2 linked regions of the Homo sapiens genome follow. The protein of the gene in region 2 interacts with the protein of the main gene of each other region in a pairwise test. Each region holds a gene or a part of one and is shown on either strand. Other genes may lie near its edges.

Region 1 (3,819 bases), on a different chromosome or scaffold from region 2:
CGTTGGAGTTGGAATCCACATCCCGCCCTGAGCCTAGTTCATCCTCCTCCTCTGGCTCCATGCGCTCTCCGCCCACCGGGATCCCCTTCCCAGGTCCTGGAGTGGAGAGCAAAGGTTCTCCTGCACAGCCAGGAGCAGCTGGGGGCTTGGCTGAGGAGACCGGCAGGAAGTCTGACTCGCCCCCTCTTTGCCGGGAGCTGCTTAAGGTTTCCCTGGACTCCATGACAATCTCTACAGTCTTCCGGAGTTCTCAGGAGGGGGAAGGGGAAAAGGGAAAAGGGAAAGGTGAGAAAAGAGGACACCCAAAATTCCAAGAACAAAGTGGTCCAGTTGCTAGGGTCAGATTCCCAGGGATGGAGACACGATGAGGTGTTCAGAAGAGATCAGATCTGCAACTGAGAAGCAAAGAGACAGTTAGGCATGGCAGAAAGGAAAATGACCCCCAAGGTTACTCAATCTAAGTTCCAGAGGCCCCCTTCCACGTATCTATGGCATCCGGAAAAAAGAAATGATGGAAAAACAGCTAACCAGAATAAGCACATCCCCAAATTGGATTTTACTAGAGCAGAGGGAAAAACACATTCACACACGCCTTCATAATGGATTGCTATTAATTTTATAGCTGTAGGCCCAAGAATAAAGATAAGAGGTGCGAGTTCTCCAGCCCGGTAGCAAGCTAGAGGTTTCTTTATACTGAAGCTTCAGCTGGCTGAGTCACTGTTAAAACCAATCATGACGAAAGGGAAGTCTGAAGTGTTGAGGCTCAGGTCTGCTGGAACTGTATTTGGTTGGCTTTTTGCACCGCTTCTCTGTCACATGTGAAGAACAGTTTGCAAAGCTGAGCACAACCCCCAGGCTGCCTGGGCCAAGCTCTCCACCCACTTGGAGGAGGGGCATTCAGCCTATCTCTTAACCATTTTACCTTTATCATTTTTCACTATGCATTATTTCAATTATGCAAAGACCTCTCTATTTCTTCAAGCAAATGCAAAGCTTAGGTTTGAGGCACACAAAAAGAAAATAAAAAGAGTTCAGTGGCAAATCACTTATAACACTGTGATTAATGGAAAACAACTTCAACAAATGTTTCTACTGACACAAAAGAGAGAAATTTAATCATTATCAATTATTTAGATTAAAAATAGCCTTTCTAGACAGTTGTAATTCCCTTTCTGGTTTCTTAAATGAAGTAGTATTGTGTCTCCATAGCAGCAAAAGAGAAAAAGGGAGAGAAGGAGCATTTTATAGGCCTGTGGAAGTGTCAGGAGTCCCCCCAGGATCTTCCTCTCTACCTTCCTCCAAGATGAGAAGAGAAAAATCAGTTAGGCTCTCTCCAAACTGTCACAGGATCAGCTAAACTCTCCTTCACCCTTCTTCACCCCACGTTCTATTATTCCCAATTTCATACTCATAATTTTCAAAGCCCAAAAGGAAGCCCAAACGCTCAGTCTCAGGAGAAAACCAAGAGCCCTGGGGCTGCAAACATCACATCCTCCCACCCTTAGGCTGTACGCTGGATCACACTCAAGCTTTCTCAGCTGCTGAACACTTAAGTTTCCCAGCAGAAGACATGACTGTACATCTTAGGTTTCTACCTCTGAGCCCATCAATTTAAAGTGGCTGGCAAATGTGCCCACCAAAAAATGCCCAACGATGCCTGCAAAGACATATTCAGAATAACCAAGAACTGGAAGCCTGAAGACCAGACGTTTGTCTTCTGTCTCCAGAATCAGCACATTTTTAGCTGACGCCCTGTGAGGAAGCCAGCCAGGAAGGCAGCCCCGGCTCCAACACGGACCCTGCTCCCCAGAGAAGCCCAGGAGCATATTCAGCTACTGGAAAATGCTCAGCTTTGCAGAAAGACACATTTACAACTGCTTCCACTTCGGGGAAGATTCAACGAATACAGCTTTTCTGAAAAAGAAGAAGCTGCCCTAGTGAGAGCATGAGCATCTTCACTGACACTGTTGAGCCAAAACTGAAAACAGCCACCTGTGACCCATGCTACAAGATGGACAAAGTCTCCACTTTGGGAGGTGGGGAGAAGTTAGACCAGATGACACTTGATGTTTCTTTTACTGATAAGATTTTTTGTCTCATCTAGATTTATCTGCCCAATAATACACATTATTTTTAAAAAGTTATACTCAAGTTGACTTTACGGAGGCCTCTCTTACTAGTGTCAGGCACCACCCCAGCTGTTGGAGACATCAATGTACCTTAGGAAATTTCCCCATTTGTCAAGCGGTAAGAATCCAGTAGGTCTTTCTCAGTGTGTATCCCAGATCCATGCAAATTGCAAGCCATGTTTTCTTATGGCAGTAATGTTCACAGTCTATTCCCTTTGGCAGGAATCTCCAACGACATTTTAATTCTCTAATACCTACCTATAAAATCTCCCCAGGTCAGGAGAAAAGACAAAGCATATACATACAAATTTCCTAAATGAAATCCATTTGGACCTTTGAACCAGAGTAGGGAAATGTATGTTACAGATTCTGTGATACAATAAAAGAAGGTGAACTCTAAACTTTAGATGAATTGATGGGCTTATACACTGAATATATTATTAATATTAAGAAAATATCTTCCATTAAAAAAAGATTCACTTCAGAGTGAAATAAATGAAACAATCATTTCTTACATTTTACTACGTGTACAAGACAAAGTTCTGAAACTTAAAATTCAAGTCATAAAAGATCCACACAAAAAAAATTCAATACAAAAAATTTTTTTCTGTTCTCAAATCAAAATACTAAGGAAAACACAATCTTTTTCCTCAAGGAAGTTACACTTTTGATGAGAGATTTGACAAATCACTCTAAAACAACACAGAACTTTATATGTACTGTAAGAAAGGACAGAATCAAAAGGAAGAAAGTTTTCTCCACTTGAGCAAGGTGTAGGTAGCTAGGAAACTACACAGAAAGGCTTTGAGGAGAGCAGAAGACAGATCTTTGATCTTGATGGGGGTTTCCTAGGTAGAGCAGGAAGAAGGAAGACGTAGCAGAGAAAGGGAAGACGTGAGGCCACGTCCTGGGCAGGCGTGTGCAGGATTATGCAGAAGAAACAGGGAATTGATGTTTGGCTAGGAAGTATGGTAGAAACTGGGAATCTATGAGAGGTGAGGCTGGAAATAAAAGGTCATGGCAAAGTCATGAACTTCCTTGAATGTTGTGCTAACGAGTTTGGATTTTATCTTACAGGTAATGGGAAGCCATTTAAGGAATGGCAGTGGAGAAGGAATAATATCAAATCTAAGCTTTAGGAAGATAATTCTGGTACATGGTGTGAGGGTTGGATTAAGGGAATCTGATGTTAGAGGCAGGGGGCCATAAGAAAGTTCAGCTGAAATTTCATTCACATTGCTTGAAGACCCAAACCAGGGCAATGTGAGTATGTCATAATAAATACTGTAGGTAAAACAGTAATGCAGTTTCAAATAGCCTTAATCTTTAGGAATTCATCTATTCCAGACTTTTCATACTGATCTCGCCTTAAAAGACCAAAGCAAATTAGCCACCAACTTGCAGTAACTACTCAAGTCAAACCAGTCTCCACAGCAATGTTATACATAGTTCTTTCTGTATTTTTTAAAATACACAGAATCTGTTCTTATATCCACTTCCTCTCATCCTTGCAATGCCGGCCATGCAATTGGTGTTCCCCAAATGTTTGTTGCACGAAGGAATGAATAAACAAATGAATAAAAAGATCCCAAGCCTTTCCATATTTCCAGATCATCCCCAAGTCTTCAATTCTCCATGGCAACATTCTGTAAACTCCAGACCGTGGTGCTCACTCCTTGGCCGGACTGAC
Region 2 (3,819 bases):
GTCTTACTAATTTCATACTATGAGGTAAAGACCCGAAACAAAAATAGATTCAGTCTCTCGTATTGCTATAACTCTTAGGCTGGGGTATTAATCAAAATAGGATTTTTACATTTAAGGCGACAGGGAGGCTATGCTGATTCTAACTCAGAAAGAAATGGGAAAACAGTTTTTCTAAGGCTACAACTATTTGTTTAGGCTTATTTTCCCGGACCTATACAAAAATTCAGTCAACAAGTTTTGGGTAAATAAAGGAAATTCATTTTGCTTTCCTCTGCTCTGTCCCTGAAGTCACTCATCCAGGTTGGCTGCTCAAACACCAAGAATCTCCACCATTCTTCACTTGACAGTCTTTGTGGACACGTTAGACCCAAACTTTTTTTTGTATAACACCATCTTAAAATTTTTTAGTATACTTTATCTTTCTTTAGTTTACCCAAAGGAAGGAGTTTTCACTCTAATGTCAATATATTTGCAACCATCCAACTCAAAGACCTCTGTGTCGACTGTTCACTTTGTGGATCATCTCTGGCTCATTTAAAACATCCTGCCTCATCCCCACATTCGCTGACTGGCCTTAGAAAGCAAAGTAAATTTATTGTTAGTCTAAATAAGCATTCTATAGCAAACATAAGTAATTCACACCTGGCCTACTATGAAAATTAAATTTTCTGAATTTAGATCATATTAGCTCTAAAAGCCCCACAGTATGCTAAAAATCGAAAATAAATTCTAAAAAGAGGAAAGCAAGGCTTTTGTCTCCATCATCATTTCTTTATATAGCACTAGAAAATTCTTATTCCCCTTCTAAATTTGCAATTTCATCCAACTGCCCCTAAATTCTAGTTCCAAAAACAAATTAAAGTGCCAGTTATAACACTACCTCCCACTCCCACCTCTCTCAAGAAAGAGGCCTAAAAATAAGAATGATGACATTTACCCTTTTTTGTACTAGAGCTTTACTGAAGGTTGGTATTTTTATGTCAACCTTCCTAGGACTGTCAAGTCTGCCTCCTAAAGAGCGCTGTCAGGATTTCATAGCACAATCTCCTTATTCACTCTCCAAATTATTTACATAGTAAAACTTCTATGGGGTCTCAGCCACCACCAAATTACAAAACTGCCCATTTCTTCTAGAATAATAGTTTTAAAATTTCCTTCCATTTCAGTATATGCATACTCAGTTCATCACATAGTAATATCAATAAAAAAATAAACTTCCATTTCTTATAAGAAAAACATTAACTTAATTCACAGTTAGCCTTTTCCCACAACACTCAATACTCCAGTAGCTTCTAGGAAGAGAGGTATATTAGTGATAAAAATGGAATATTAAAAATCCATGACTTGGGAGTAAACGGAGCCCTTAACTCCTCCTCTCCCCCTACCTGAATCACAAAAGGGTTTTCCTGAAATGAGAGGGGATGGGACTGGGGTCAGCAGGATTCTCACCTCGGTCTAACTACAAGGTACGGGGAGAAGACAGGAGGGCTGGCCATTTGGCAGAATCCAAGCCTACTAGCTTGGGATCTACTAGGGAGATAAAAGCCCATGCCTGGCATATTGGTCCCCATTCTAATTGTCTTGCCCATGTTAGACCTGTCATCACACTAAGGCAAGTCCACTGCCAAGCTGAGCATTATCCTATTTTATTCATCCACCTGCCCCTCCTCCTTTACCTCTGCAAGGTTGACCTATACAGGGTCTGGAGAAAGCATCTCAATCCATTCCCTGGGCTATACAGTTTCGAAGGGAAATAAATGGTCCCTCGGGTTTCTGCCTTTTCTCGGAGGGTTGATGTCCTAAAACTGAAAGCCTAATTCATTACTGTCCTTTACAAAAGCTTCCCTGAAGGCCTCAGTTTAAAGATGAGTGATTTCATCTTTTACTGTGTTTGAAGGGCTTTCAGTGCATCAAGACTGAGAGCAAATTCATCCTCATAGCCACCAGAAGGAAAAACAATGATTTAGCTAAGATTTAATTTATCTTCTAGCTAAAGTGTCATCGGTAGTCACATGATCAACAAATGTTCACATGTGGCATCTGGAAGCATGTGCACCTGTGTGCTATCTTAACTTTCTTGTCTTGACTTTAAAGTGGAACAAAACAAGGTAAGTTATAGATGCAAGTTCCTAAGCTAAATTACTTCTATTGATACATCAATGATTTCAGCTTCCCTCCCCCTAACCAGGTGGAAGCACAGATGCTATAATGGATGATGGATATGGAAGGCAAAAGCCTTCTAATTCATTGCAATCATAATTTACTGAGGACTGTACAGGTCCCAGGTGGGACACTGACACTGGAATGGTCTCTACCAGGCATAGGGAATGGTTCGTGTTTAAAGGCCAAGCAAATTCTAAACACATAATTTGGGCCATACTTTTAGTCTGGTAGGGGATAAGCCCTACCATTTCAAACTCCTTGTGGAGAGTCCTAAGCCAGGGGCCAACTGGACATTTTCCCAAAGGCTGGGCAGTATCATCTGCTGAGCCTACAGAATTGAAAATGCCCTCTTGAACAGGCCTTTGTCATATTTTGCATGGATACCAACGAGCCCCAAACCTGAATTCCACTCCCACCTGGAACTTCTTCTGACTTATTCAGGAACAACAGGGCAGCCCAGCCAGCATCTCAGGTCAGCAATCATTTCCAAACTGGCACATAGTTCATTTCACAGTGTGGCATGAGATCAGGCTGACAGCTTCACAGGAGAACTAGGCCTGCTCAGGCAGGCGAGGGCTGAGGCCCGGCAGGAGATGGTGGCAGAAGGTGTCACACCACAGGTATCCAACCCTCCTCCAGGAGGCCGGTGGTCATCATAATGCCCGCCCCTAAAGAGCTTACAGACCTAGAAGTCTGTGAACGATGTTCAGCACTTTCTTCTGAACAAAAGCAGATGGTTTCTCAGAAAATATTTCAAGACTGGCAGAAAAGCAGGTCCACATGGCTCCTAGCTTCTGCTGCCACTGTGGAATTCCCTAGTAGAGAACTGGTAGCAAAGGATCCTAGGTTGTGCCTGTTAATCTGTCATGTTGGGGAGCAGAATCTGGCATAGAGCAAGGCTTCGAAAGGTGATTTCCGAAGCCACAGGCTCCACTTCATAGCCCAGGCAAGACATACTCTGAGGATGCTCAACAGTGGCAAAGGTAACTGAAGAGATAAAGCACACGCTGTTCAGCCAAGCAGAGGCTCTGCACAAGATTTCTGGTCCTATGAAGAAGCTGGCAAGGTAGGGAAGGACCAATTTATTGGAATCTCTCTTAAAGGGAGAAGTTCTGCATTGGGGTCAGCTGAGCCCAAGGCCCCTATGACCTGAAACATGGCACTGCCTCACTGGCACGTTCTCCTCTGGGGCCACCCATACCCTGGCCCTCTGCATGAGCAGGAGGGTGGACACGTGGAGATGTGAGACAGAAAGCTACCGAGACAAGCACAAAGTTAAGGGAACCCAGAAGCCCTGACTCACCATTCAAAGGAAAAAACAGGAACTTCATTCTCACCCTGCTATGTTTACACCAGCACTTCTGAGCTTGCAGTTAAAACTGCAGTGTTTGCATATAGAAGGCTCAGAGCAGAAATGCCTCAAACAGCTCCTTCCGGCAGATTCCCTAATTCCAGAAAAAGGAGGTCTTCTTGTGTCCTCTAGGAGAATCAGACCTTTCCTTTCACTTCTACTCCTGCCTCTAACCACCTACCCCCAGCTTAAAACACCCTGAACCTCAGGATACCACGAAAAATAACCATTACTTGACAGAAAGGACCCCTCAACCCTTGAGAGGCAAGAAGAGAGGGTTGCATGTAAAGGAGAATAAAAGGTGA

Evidence for each region.
Region 1: the proteins of DENND11 (region 2) and SETBP1 interact in a two-hybrid assay, tested with the Homo sapiens proteins (one large-scale study listed by BioGRID).

The regions. Positions count from the first base shown.
Region 1 is NC_000018.10:44,697,751-44,701,569, reverse strand, and holds part of SETBP1 (SET-binding protein), read right to left. Parts: intron 696-3,819; exon of another isoform or gene 529-695; intron 396-528; 5' UTR 224-395; coding exon 1-223.
Region 2 is NC_000007.14:141,657,001-141,660,819, forward strand, and holds part of DENND11 (DENN domain-containing protein 11), read right to left. Parts: 3' UTR 1-3,819.